Linked DNA regions of Homo sapiens. The protein of the gene in region 1 purifies or fractionates together with the protein of each later gene. This does not show direct contact. Each region holds a gene or a part of one and is shown on either strand. Other genes may lie near its edges.

What was found. The genes of interacting proteins can lie anywhere in the genome.
Region 2: the proteins of MEPE (region 1) and TOMM34 purify together in Homo sapiens (affinity purification with mass spectrometry; 2 studies listed by BioGRID and IntAct, with this or other methods). This does not show direct contact.

The regions. Positions count from the first base shown.
Region 1 is NC_000004.12:87,835,955-87,842,980, forward strand, and holds part of MEPE (matrix extracellular phosphoglycoprotein isoform a precursor), read left to right. Parts: intron 1-2,677; coding exon 2,678-2,731; intron 2,732-3,730; coding exon of another isoform or gene 3,731-3,823; intron 3,824-3,972; exon of another isoform or gene 3,973-4,100; intron 4,101-7,026. UniProt on the Homo sapiens protein: Promotes renal phosphate excretion and inhibits intestinal phosphate absorption. Promotes bone mineralization by osteoblasts and cartilage mineralization by chondrocytes.
Region 2 is NC_000020.11:44,950,383-44,957,408, reverse strand, and holds part of TOMM34 (mitochondrial import receptor subunit TOM34), read left to right. Parts: intron 1-923; coding exon 924-1,023; intron 1,024-1,788; exon of another isoform or gene 1,789-2,188; coding exon 2,189-2,341; intron 2,342-5,406; coding exon 5,407-5,576; intron 5,577-7,026. UniProt on the Homo sapiens protein: Plays a role in the import of cytosolically synthesized preproteins into mitochondria. Binds the mature portion of precursor proteins. Interacts with cellular components, and possesses weak ATPase activity.

The sequences.
Region 1 (7,026 bases):
AGCTTTCCTGCCCAGAGGCAGACAATGCCATCTCCATTACAGGGCCACATTCAAGCCTAAGACATCTGCTTGGGGGTATAGAGGGGACAAGGGAGGGATGCGTATTTCAAATGAAAGCAGCTCAGCAAGGATGCAGAGGCAACATTTGTAACTGTGAATCATTAAATATGATGTTTTCTTCCAGGTATATAGATGCCATTTTAGTAATTACCTGAATTTTTAAATGATAGATTGGTGGCTTAAGAAATTAGTATATACTCAGCCACTTGCATACGTCTTAGAATTATAAGCCAAATTCTAAATGATTTTTAAAAGGAAGAAAATGAATGTTTATTAGGCTATGCAATTCGGTTAATATTCATCAAGATGCAGTTAGACTAGAAAGACTTTGTTATAAGTCACAATAAATCAAAACTGTACCGAGGTACTCTATATTGTCAAGTATGTTTCTAATCCATATGTGTGTGTGTGTGTGTGTTCTGTAAGAAGATCCCTGACACCCCATACTATCATTTCTTTCTTTTGCTTAATATCTGCCCATCTCATTTTTATGCTTTCTTCTTCCTATAGTCCAATTTCCAGAACTGTTTGCCCTGGTTTTATATTTTTGAAGAGTGATATAATTGTCCAAATTTATATTCACATGATCATATAAGAATCAACATAAGAAATGCAATAAAGGATAAAACTATAAAAGATGCCTTGACGATAATTAATATAAAGTTTAGGAACATTTCCTCTTATTACTAAATGCTTTTTCATATTTAATCATTCAAAAATTTATTATTTTAACCCTGGGACTTTGAGGCAGAAGATTTAAATTAAAATATCTTCTCTACTTCTACTGCAACTACCAACTATGAGTGTAGGCACTTCTGTTTCTTCTACTGCTCATCTTATAAAGGTTACTTTGGGACTCATATGAGATTATAAGTACAAAAGCAGTTTACAAACTATAAAGAGTCCTATAAATAGAAGGTGTTATTGATAAACTATTGTTATTTTCTAGAATGGAATTGAATATTAGGCAGCTATGCCTTGGAGTCCAGCCATGGAGGTGCTTTCTAAACTTCTGAGTTTTATATTTTGAAGATGATTTTATCTGCCAGAGTCCAGTCCAGAAAACAAAATCCACTACAGGGAGCTCAGTAGAGCGACTTTCTAAGGGAAGCTAGCTATAAAGTATAAGGAAGAACAGAAAAGCCAACCAGGGGTGGTGAGACCACCCAAGGATCGAAGCTATTACCAGGCTTAGGGCTGGAAGGAAAAAAAAAGGTGCTGCTCCTAGGCCCCTGGCTGGGGGAACTAGGACCACAAAGGAGATGTACCCAACTCTAGAGATGCAGCCCCAAACACGGAGAGTAGAGAAGGACATACCCTGGCTTCTCTCTCCTTCCCCCCCTCCAGACTCATGCCAGGCCTCCTTCACCCAAACCCAGTCTGAACACAGAGGGCAAATGAGCTTGGGAAATGAAGGAATCAGTTCAGATTGAGCTGGAGATACAAAGGAGCTGAGAGCAAGCAGGGGCATTCCCAATATCTTAGTGCAAGCAACAACCTGTCTGTATTAAACAAAATATAGAAGCTTAAGGCTTCTTCAGGAAGAACACTTTCCAGGTAAATAGGACAGCTGGCCTAGGCGGCCCTCTTTCTGTTTATCTCTTTATTCAATCTTTCCCTTAAGGGGTTCTCTCTTTTATATGATTGATCCACCATGATGCCTGCTTCCACTGTAGCACACCCATTCAAACACGGCCCAGTCCGCCCATTGGTTCCCAGTGCCACATCTGAGATAGGCTAGGAGTTTCTGAAAGAAAGAGGTAAATGAAAAATACTGAGAATTAAAGAACTTACATCTATTCCTTTAATAAAACAGTTGCTCTCAGATTTTAGGGTCCCTGTTCTGTGTGCTTTCCTGTGGTATGCAAACTTCAGCCCAAAGGACTGGGACAAACTGCCGAGGTCTGTTCTTTCTTCATTTCTGCCCTTTCTGCGCTTCAATAGCTACCCCTCACCCTACGCTACCCTCAAGAAATTTTGACACTTTATGTCAAACCAAGAAACAGAATTTATCCTAATCTGCTGGCCACCTCCATTTTTCCTTCTCAGAATGTAACATCTGGCAGCAATAAGTTTTTGTCCTTAATTGCGATCCTACCATTCACATGAACGGCTATGGTTTGACTCTCCCTGGGCCATCAGCAGCATCATATCTTAATTCAATATTACAGTTACTCAACTTATATAATTAATGCACACACACAATTTAAATCGTCAAACTCTGATTTTAGTTCACTTATATTTAACAACTCCCAGTTTGCCAGTGAAAACTTCTTTTTCAGTGGATTCTGATGGCAGCCAAGCTCCTTCGTCTGGGGTGCCATCCCTCCCTACTCCCCCACCACACCCACTTAGCGGTTGTCTGAGCTTGAATCCAGTTCTGTAGTGGAGACGGCACTGTCTCCCTCTGGGGGCAGAAAGCTGGCACTGTCTTTCGTAATATTGAAACAAATATTATATTAATGCGATGAGTGTGTCAATCTTCTTTTGGTTAGAATGATTTTCCACAGTGAATAATACAACTCAGTGAGAGAAAAATAAATGAAACATTTGTTTGAAGAAGTTAATGAAATAGAATGTTCTAGTGGGTGAAGTTTTGTTTCTTGTTTCCTTTCAGACATTTCAACCACAGACTGAGAAAACTAAGCAAAGCTGTGTGGAAGAGCAGAGGGTAAACAGAATTCATCTTTTCAAATAACTCTATTTCAGCTCTATAAAGAAAAAGTCAGTAAGAGAAAAGTGTAACTGTCAAAATAGTCTTGGGCACTTTGAATGGAAGTGAAAAAATATACAACATAATGTTGGCACTTTCTAGTCAATCAGGTATTGTAACTCACACACCATGTGTGACAGAAAAGAGGAAAACATTGTGAATAGAGATTTATTTCTCCCCAGTATGATTTCTTCCTTCAAATGAAACAATGCTTTGCCAGGCAACCTTCATGGGGCTAAGTGAGTAAGAATTTGGGAACATTGCTACTAGCAAACAATATTTTCCCACACATGTACCTGACAAACACTTTGCTCTCAGAATGATAAATAAGGGAGTAAAGGGGAAGGTGGCTATCAGATCTGAATGGGGAATTCTATGTCCGTGGAGTCAGCTTTCCATATGCATCCAGTTAAATGAATCCTCCCCGCTTTGCATGCCACCAAATTGCAGCTTGCTTCTGCCTATCACAGAAAATTATGTTCTAAGAACTAACAATCTTCTGTACTTCATCTCAGCTGAAAATTACAAAGGCCAACGTTGCCAGCTTAAGAGCCTGAATGTTCATGCTGTGAGTTTTGCCAATTAGACATCAGACATGAATATTGTAAATCCTGTCTTTCTCCTGGTCCTCTCACCCCCTCCCACCTGAAAATATTTCCACATGCTCCATTTCCATAGACGTTTGGTAATAAAATCGATCCACCCTAGGACAGAAAGCAGTTGACAGGCCCTTAGGGAAAACAGATTTAGAGTTATGTAGAAAAGAGAAGGAACAAGTTGCTGTCTTCGGGAGCCGGCTGACACACACCCTCCTGTGGTTATAAGAAGTACTACCATTTGTCAGAGGTAGAATTCAACTTCACCCAACTTTTAAAGTTTCTTATATTATTACAAAGAGCCCAAAAACTTCTTTGTAAGAGATAAAACGTGCCTCAATATAATGTTGTGTTTTTGTAGATAACATACAAGGGTCACTATGAGAAACATGGGCATTATGTTTTTAAGTGTGTTTACATGTCACCTGAGAAGAAAAATCAAACTGATGTAAAGGTAAGCTGAATCTCTGAATGACCATTCTCAGCATGACTAAACTCTGGACTAGCCCTAGAGGAAAATGTAGGGGAGGCAAAGTTTACTTTTGCTTGCTCTGGGGTTTCTGTCTTATGGCTGGCACTTTTGTCCCTTCCCTCCCTCCCCAGGCTCCTCAAGCCTCTCTACTACAAAACTCTGGGTCCCAGAATCTTCCTGATCCCCATCCCATGCCTCGGCCCACATCTCGCTCTGCTTCAGGACCTGTGGCTGCAGGTGTGATACTCATGGACCTCAGGTGCCCATGGACTGCTGTGTTACTGCTTCTGAGTAACATTTGGTGTTTTATAAGAAAGTTTTCTTGACATATTCTACCATATGCTCTGATGGTGGGGATCTCAGCAGGGGACGGCTAAGAGGAAAAACCATTTTGGCCTAATGAGTGACACATTTTACTGTCTCTTAAATTCATTCTATGGATAACTCCATCTGTGTTGGGTTGCTCAGAAGTAAAAGAATGAGGCCCTTGTCACTACAATGACAATAATTCTTTTCACTCAGTCCCTTCTTGTAGATTCATCGGCCAAAGGGCTGGAAATAGCTTGAAATGCCATCAGCAAAAGGGCTATTTACTTTTTCCAAATCTGGTTTTATTTCCCATGGAAGTAATAGTTTCCCTTCAGAATGTTATTTTCTTCTGCCATCGATATCCTTTAGATGACATCTCTAAGACTACACCTAACTATAAATAAGTTAAAACATATCCATTTGCCAAATATATGTGGAGTTCTTAACTGGTGTGTAAGATACTATGTGAGATAAAATGATGGAGAAAACAAATTCTTTCTCTCCAGGATCTTAGAGTTAGAAAAGAAACAAAAGGCACTTACAAAAATTATTGTAAAACAAGACAGAATGTGGGAGGTGCTATGTGAGTAGTACCGAGAAGAAAAAAAAGATCATGCTTTAAGGGCTTGGAGTAGAAAGAAATTAGTTCCTGGCCTCTGGTGTTCATAATGGAAATAATTGTGTGGGGCCATGGAGGATGAGTAGGATTTGAGCAAACAGAAGTGAATGGGTGAGGCCGTTCTCCATGAAAAAACTCATAGGAACCAAAGCATGGAGACAGAAAAGCAGAGCACAGAAAAGCAGCCAGCCAACTGGTACATAAACCATCGAACAGTCAGAAATCATTTAACACAAGCAAATGTAAGAAAAGTTTTTTTCTATTTTTTGATATTTTCTTCAATGCAAAGATAGCCATCATATACCACAGGATAAAAGTTGTTTCATGTTTTCATTTATAAAATTATTCTACTCAGTCTTCTAATAAAATGCACACAATTCATTAGTGTACATGTTACTTTTTTAAAAGCAGAGAAGCACCGAAAATAAAACATAACTTCCCACTTCAGACAAGGGAGAGAAAAAATTAGGAAGAGATTATTATAATCTACTGAGTTTAGATTTAGTGTTTAACTCAAAAGGTTATCTTAGTAATGAGTAAACAAACAACAATGAACTTGATTGCAAAGGAAAACATAAATGTCCAAGTAAAACTTTCCAGGACTCAATTACTCAAGTCAAATATTTAAAATACTTTTTATTTAGTGATATACTACAAAGTTTATTTCTATTTTTTTCTTATGGCAAAATCGTATTTCAGAATATACCCACCAATATTAAAAAATTAATGAACAATAATGCCATAACTTTTACAAATAAGTAATTTCAAATTATATTTTACAAATATTATACATTGGCACTTTTGCAGACCATATATTAGCTAGCTTCTTAAAAGTAGAGGGCACTTCTAAAAGCCATTTTTATTTTAGATTCAAATGTGAGCTGATTCAACATTTCCGCCTACTTCCAACAGTTAATAAGATACATATATAAAAGCAGACAGTCCTCCAAGCAGAACAGTACTTCTGTTTGGGAGTGAAAAAAAAGAGAGAGTCCAATCAAAATCTATTTCAGATAACATCCCATCGACGGCTACAAGCTTACAGAACACACAGCCCGAGGATGACACTTGGGCAATTCAAGAGCAGGGGGGTCCAGAGTTTGTCCATCTTCATCTGCCTCTACAACCAATATTAGAGAAGTCCAGAGACTGGGAAAACCGTTGTGTATCCAGTAATTACATGACTATCATTAATATTATCTAGGAAAGAAACTATCATTCATTAAAGGGCTATGCCCAGTTCTGTATGCTTTACATGCATTATTTAATAAAAATCATTTAATTCTCCCCAAAATACTGAAAGGTAGATATCATTTTTATTTTACAGCTAAAAAAGCTAAGGCTCAGAGAAGTAAAATAATGCTCCCAAGATCACACAGCCCATAAACGGCAGTGAGACAACTGATTCTAATGCATGTGTTCTTTCCATAGCACAGCTACTCTCGTGAGTACTGGACTGAGGGATTAAGAAAAACTATTTGGCAATTCCTGCCTACTGTTTCACTCAACATATTCCCTATGATCCTGGCTTCCCTGCGTTTGGTTTTTCTATTTTCTTTGCTACCTTCCCTACACACTTGACCAAATACTATGAGCTTCTGGCTGCATGCTCTTTTTCTCTCCATCAGGGAGCTCTCGTGTATTCTGACATCTTTAATGAACACATCTAAGATGTCCACATGCTTGACAAGAGCCAACAAATTGAAGTGGTTGTCAAAAAGCACAAAATTAAGTTGTATTAGTAAAAATAGGGCTGTGGTCAAGGCAAGGAAGTGGATGGATGCCCCGTGCTTGGGGTCGATCAGGCCACATCAGAGTCAAGGTCTGATTTGGAACCCCACAAACAAAAGGGAATTCATAATCAGGTGATGGGTCTGAACATAGTCACCTAACACAAGAGAACTGTAGTGTCAACCTGGAGAAGAGAAAGCAGCCAGCGAGTTCGAAGGAACACTAAACTTTTTCAAATGTTGGGAGGGTTTCATAGGAAAGAGGAAATAACCTTATTAGGTGTTGCATCAGGAAAAATGGATACTAGTTTCAGGTTAAAAATTATTGAAAATATTACAACTATGTATAAGTGAAACAATAGGATCTGAAAAGTAATAAACAATTAGCATGTAAGATGTTCAAGGAAAGAAGAGTTGACCATGGGCTATGAAAACTGGGAAGGACTTGTACTGGGACACACTAAGAGCCTGTGATACCCAATTCTCTATCTCTAACTGTATATTGCTTTCTGAGCTCAGGTTCTATA
Region 2 (7,026 bases), on another chromosome or scaffold:
TGAGGTCAGGAGTTCAAGACCAGCTTGGCCAACATAGTGAAACCCTGTCTCTACCAGGCGTGGTGGCGAGTGCCTGTAATCCCAGCTACTCAGGAGGCTGAGGCTGAGGCAGGAGAATTGCTTGAACCCAGGAGGTGGAGTTGCAGTGAGCGGAGATCGCTCCACTGCACTCCAGGCTGGGCAACAGAGCAGGACTCTGTCTCAAAAAAAAATACGTAAATAAAGATCATGGTGGCCACAGTGAAGGACTTGAGCCTCTGCGATTCCTGAGGGTAAGGACTGCCTTAGAAGAATGTCTAATAATTCTCCCCATGGGGTAGCTTAAGACTTTTTCCTGATTAAGTTCTCTGTACTCCCATCACACCCAGCTCAATTATCATTTCCCTGACAAAGTCCTCCCTGGCTTGACCAGGTAAAACTAGTCTCATGTCTTTCATGGGTGTTTTGTGCCCCTACAACTTTTGGTCAATCCATTTATCATACGTTTATCATCTTGTTCCCTCCCTCCCTCCCTTTCTTTTCTTTTTTTTTTTTTCTTTCTTTCTTGGATTTAAATGCTTTTTGTAATAAAATACACACCTATCCATCCATTTATCCACCCAAACCCAAGTAGTTACAGCATGGATTTCTTTGAGGCAGAAGCTAGCTATTTCTTGTTTATCTTTTGTCTGTTATCAAGTTCAGTGCTGGAATGAGTGAATGAGGAAATACTTGGTTCCCTTTGAATGGCAAAAAGCGCAGTGTCCTTCTGTCACATAAGAATGACAAACACGCCAGCCCAGCAGACCAACAAGCCTGAACAGGTTATAGTTATCTCTACTGCCTTAACACAAGGCCCAAAGAGCTCTGAGTTTGAAATGTATCCTAATGCCCTGAGGCACCCATTTTCCAAACTGATCATCTTCCCCACTCTATCTGGGCAGGTTCTTCAGACCCAGAAGAAGAAAGTGTTCTCTACTCCAACCGAGCAGCATGTCACTTGAAGGATGGAAACTGCAGAGACTGCATCAAAGATTGCACTTCGTAAGTGGCCAAGGGTAATTTTGGGATGCCTGAGGGTCTCAGAAGAGGAGGCTGGGTTAATCTGGCTTGTTTCTTCTTTGGAAGGATCCCATCAATTACATCTGGGACAGATATTAAGAAAGTGTCACTGAGTTTCACCAGGTCACTGAGAATGGGAGTCTTTATTTGGTCCTTATGGCCCGTGACTTGCATCTTTGGAGTCTTGGCTCTGCTGCCGAAAAAGGAGTGGGATGGGCAGTTAGAAGCAGGCCGTAAAGTCTTTGTGCAATTTGAAACCTGGGAATAAGGTGGAGTGGCAGACCAGTAACTGGCTTGCCCAGGTGCTTTTCTGGGATGGGAGTATGTGAGGGGAAGGGAGCGAAGGAAAGAAGGAGGAATAGAGGTTAATAGATTGTCTCAGAAGGAGAAAGGAAAAAAATGGTATTCATGAATGACCAGTTTTAGAGGACACTGAACAATGTTTCATATCTCTTTTTCTTCAAGCCAGTCTAATATTCTTTTATCATCATTAAACTCTCACATTTACCTGAAATGTGTTCTCAGATCTGATGTCCTCTGACATTGCTTTAGATTCCTGCCCTGGTGATAGCCAGGAGAGCAGGAGGGGTGTGAGCATACTCACAGAGCCTGTGCTGAATTAATTTGTGCCATGCCTTGTGCCAGATTTCCCTCTTTGAGTGTTCACAACCAATCTGTGGGGTACGGTTACCATGTGTCCCAGGCCAGAACTTGGTTGCTGAGGGTTGGGGCAGTAAAGTGATTTACCTGGGTCACATAGTTAGCAGCAGAGGTGGAATTCAGACACCACCCCATCTGACTCCAAAGCTTGTTTGTTATTCCCACTAGACCACAACTGTAAAAAAACATAGTAGCATGAAAGCCATGAGGCTTTTGTTCTTGATTTTGGGGGAACTGAAACTATGAAAATTGATGCATGTGCACACACATTTAACAAAATTCATGTTTCTCTGCCTTCTTTCTCCTCCTCACTTCAGTCTACGTTGAAAAATCCCTGTTCTGAGGTTTGGCGTTTTTAGCCATGTCTCTCGGCCAGAAATTACTTCCTGTACGCTGAGTGCTCCAGATAACCCTGCCTGGAAGAAACTGTAGGGAAACCCTGGTGGCTCAGCAGCCAGCCAGTTGACATTTTTGCCTCCTATTCTAGAGCACTGGCCTTGGTTCCCTTCAGCATTAAGCCCCTGCTGCGGCGAGCATCTGCTTATGAGGCTCTGGAGAAGTACCCTATGGCCTATGTTGACTATAAGACTGTGCTGCAGATTGATGATAATGTGACGTCAGCCGTAGAAGGCATCAACAGGTGAGCTCCATTCCCAGCAGGTGGTCTCCACGGCAACTCCCTGTCCTTCTTGATTGGCTGCGGGCCATTGCCTTGTCTGTCTTCTGAGGGGATCCCTTTGGCTACACTTAAAAAACTCCCGATGGGCATGTAGGGGAAGCTGAGAAAGGAAAATCTGCTTTTTTATTTAGCAGGTTTTCAGGGAGTCAATTACTAAGATTGATTGATTGATATTTGCCTACATGTGCCTCACAGTATCTATGTACACAGTAATATTTATTGTACACTGTTTAAGGTGTTGTGCCCGGTTCAGTGGGGGATACCAAAATGAGAAAGAGATACAGACCCCACTTACCTTCAAAGCGCTAACGCTAATTAGAAGAATAAGACACAAGCCCAAGCAGCTATGACAAGCCTAAAAGGATATGGTTTGTGGACATGGTTCAGTATATTGCACTGTGACCAATCCAAGAGGTTCCCCAGGTGCAATTCCTTTCTGGTCTCTGAGCAGTTATTGGCTTTTATCTCATGGATATTGTCATTTGTATAACTGATCATGTTTCCCCTCTGCGTGTGCGGCTAGAAAGCCAAACACTGCACTAATAGCAAACCCTTAACAGGGACTTCATGGTATGTATTTAGTGCTTTATTTCTGGCTTGACTTGTCTGCCAGCATTCTTTGTTTTCTCTTTGCCTCCTTTTTAACTTATCTGATTCCACAAAATCTACCAATTATGTGACAGACTTTGCTCTAGGACCTGGGCTGATGACTGAGACATACCTCTTCCTGCCGTCATAGAGGTCCCGGTCTCAAGGAAGACACCAGTCAGTAATAGGCAAGCACAATACAACATGATAAGCGCCATGGTAGGAGGCAGCACAGGGGGCTCTGAGGCCAGAAAGGAGCCACCTAGCTAGCTGAGAGGGAGAGGGGGAGGCCAGAGAGAGCTTTTCAGAGGAGGTGAGCTAAGAATGAGAGATATGGGGTAGGGGGTTAGCCAGAAGACAGAGCAGCGTGTGCAAAGGTGAGCAAGTGTGACAGATCACAGGAATTGTAAGAAGTCGGTTTCACATGGTGCTGCAGGCAGGAGCTCAGCTTGGGACAGGTTGGTGAGGCCAAGTCACACAAGACCCAGGGTTCAGGGCTTGGACTTAATCCTGAGCAAGTCAGCCTTTATGAAAAGGTCTTTAGCAGTGGAGCAACATGAGCAGATTTGTATTTTAGAGAAAAGCTCTTTGCTGCCATGTTGAGGGATGATATGAAGGGCAACAGAATAGAAAGGAGTCATGCAGCAATCCAGGGGAGAGGGTGGAGAGAAAACAATGGGACCAGTCAGGGGACATGTAGGAAGTATATCAACAAGCTTTAGTGGTTGCGGGGTATCGAGAAGGGAGGAATAGAAGAAGACACTCAGATTATTGACATTCAGTCGGAGGTGACTGTGGGACATAAGACTAGAGATCTAAGTAGGACGGTTGGGTATTTACATGGAACAAAGGAAGAAAATACAGGCCAGACATAAGGATTTGAGGGTCATCAGCGCAGAGGTGGATTAGGGCTGTGAGAAAGAAAAAGAACATCACAGCTAGTGTGAAGAGGATGGAGCTTTGAGAAACTCCAGCATTTGAGGGACTTACAGAGGAACAGCAGCTAGAGAGGTGGGAGGAAACAGGGCATTGATGTCCCAAGGGAAGGAGTATTTCAAGAAAGATGGAGACATCATTAGTGTCAGGTGTTCCAAGGAGCTTACATTAAAGGTTTGGCAATGAAGTCACCGGTGGCTCTGATGGAAGCTGGTCAGTGGGATCAGGAGCCAGAGGGCAATGCTTTCAGAAAGTCAGGCTTGAAGAGAAGCTGGGGAGTATACCTGTGATGGCAAGGGGTGTCCAGTATGGTTTTATTAGGTGAGGAAAGAGTTAAAGGGACTTAAATGCTGACGGTTGGAGTTAGTAGAGAGGAAGGATGAAGATGTGGGAGAGGGAGGTGCTGCCTGGGTGTGGTCCCTGAAAGAGGCAAGAGGAGATGGGATCCAGAGCTTAGGTGGGTGGATTGGTCCCATTGTCTCTTCTGTTGTGACAGGAGAGAAATAGGAAGGATTGGGCACCCAGGCAGGTAGGTTTGTATTTGGGGTATGAGGAAGTTTGCTCTAAAAAAGGGGAAGGGCCAGGGAACAGGTTTGAGGAGAGCAGAGGTTTGAAATAGCTTGGCCGCCAGGAAAACAGCCTAGCCAGAGACATCTTGGAATTTGTAGTGATACAGTCTGTGGTTTTTATTCTTGTAATATAGGAAACATGGTTGTAGGAGCAGAAAAAGTATACAGTTAGCATTATTCACTCATTCAACACATAACTGATTGGGCCTTGGTGGTTGCTAGGTGACATACCAGGTGCTGGAGATCAGTTGACAGAATGAACTTGGTCTCTGGGTGGCATTTTAAGCTGAAATCTAAAGAATAAGTTGGAGTTAGCCGGGCCTGGAAGGTGGCAATCTTTTTCCAAAATGAAAATGGTTGTTCTGGGTAGAGGAAAAAGCATGTGCAAAGTCTTGAACAGAAGGATCAGAAGAGAATGTGGCTCACAGTGAAGGGGGACAGGAAGGGGTGGGGACCAGATCTCACATGCCACATTAGCCTAGGGAATTGGGAACCCCTGAGGAGTTGTAAGATTTGAGAATGACATAAGCTTTGCATTTTTTAAAAAGCCTGAGCATTAAACAAATGTCAGGTGCTTGCATGGTTGTGTACTTGATTCATTGATAAAATATGAAACAAAATGTATGATTCTTTCTTGGAGAAACTATAGTCTTTTTGGATCATGGTTTAAGTATCCTTAACAAGCAACAGATCACCACTTTAAAGGTAACATAGTTTGACCAAGCTCAAGGAATGTCATGGGGACTGATCTGAGATGGTGTTTATGGGTTCCTGTATTGCACGTGTTGGAGGAGCTAAAGAGGTGGTTCCGACCAGGGGGAGGGTGGCAGCTCTGGCTCTTCTGAAAAGGCCTACCTCCCATGGGTGTGTGAAAGGAGAAATATCTTCTTGACCCAGCTGGAAACCTCCCTGCAATCCTGCCTTCTTTTCCAGAATGACCAGAGCTCTCATGGACTCGCTTGGGCCTGAGTGGCGCCTGAAGCTGCCCTCAATCCCCTTGGTGCCTGTTTCAGCTCAGAAGAGGTGGAATTCCTTGCCTTCGGAGAACCACAAAGAGATGGCTAAAAGCAAATCCAAAGAAACCACAGCTACAAAGAACAGAGGTGAGCTGTGACTCCCTGCCCAGAGTCTTGCAATCTCCCACTATCCATTTTCTTTAGAGTAGTCCTGCAAAAATTGGCATTGTTTAGCTGAGTTATAAAAATAATCTTAGGAACAAAGTATAAAACAAAATACAAGTCTTCACCTCTTAGAGACTGTTTTCTCAGCTGTATAGTGAGGGTGATGATAAAGTCTTCCTCACAACCATGAGGACTGAATGACATAAGACATGTAAAACTCCCAGCCTGGCACATAGGCATGCAGTGTGAGTTCCCTTCTCTTTCCTCTGGTAGCACTTGGGATGTAGTACTTAGGATGTTTTTGGTTGCAAAAACAGAAAGCTCAACATGGTAAACATAGTATAGGGAATTTATTGGCTCATAAAACTGAAAAATCCGAGAGAATTCAGGCAAGGTTTGCTCCAGCAGCTCAGTATATTAACAGACTAACTCCATTTTTCTGTACTTATCACAGCTTTATTTTCTGTTGTGCGTCAGCTTTGTCTTTGGCAAGCTTCCCTCCTAGTAGCAAAATAGCTATAGCAGTTCCCGGCCTCACATCCATACCCCATGCCTCATGACCCAGAGAAAGAAAGTCTTTCTCTGATAGCTCACTAGGAAAAGATAGGATTTTTTTCCCCCAAAAAACTCTAGCTCACATATTTTCTCAATCATTTTCTCAATCTATTCTGGTCTTCATGGTCACAGGCCATTCCCTGAAGTACACACCATAACCGGCGGATGAGATTTTGTGATTAGGTCACCCTGAGGCACCTGCCCCACCTCCAGAACTAGAGGGTGATGCTTCCCAGGAGCATGTACACTGTGTGAATCCCTGGAGAAGCATGAAGAAGAGAAAGGAGATCCAAGCAGCCAAAAACAGGAGATTCCTCACCTCAACTGTATGAAATGAAGAGGCCATTTGTCAGGCACTAGGAAGCTCTTTTAATGCTCCAGGGGAATGGTCCCAGCCCAGCAAGCTAGGGATTCAGGCTAGAGGTGCAGAAGGGATCAGAGATGGAGCCCTGCCATGTGTAAGTGACCTATAGGTGTTAGGGGAGGACAAGAGTTACTCACCTTCTACAGGAGAATGCCTCTCTGGTCATGGGTAGCATTCACTCTGGTTTGTGGGAGCCTGGTAAGTGTTCCCCACTCTTCTCTAGGATGAAAATGTGCGGTGCTAATGAACCTGATGGCATCAGTGCCATTGATTTCATTCTTTCAATCAGTGCACCTACCATTGATTTCATTCTTTAAATCAGTGCACCTACCATTGATTTCATTCTTTCAGGGTCACTGAGCCATGTGTTCCAAGCCATGTGTATGCTAAGCAGTGTGACACAGAGGACAGTCTTGGCCCTCAGGGAACTCTCCCTCAGTTGAGGGACTGAGACATGTAAACAGTGTCTTAAAACACAAGGAGGAGGAACATGTGCTTTAGAGTCTTAGTGTT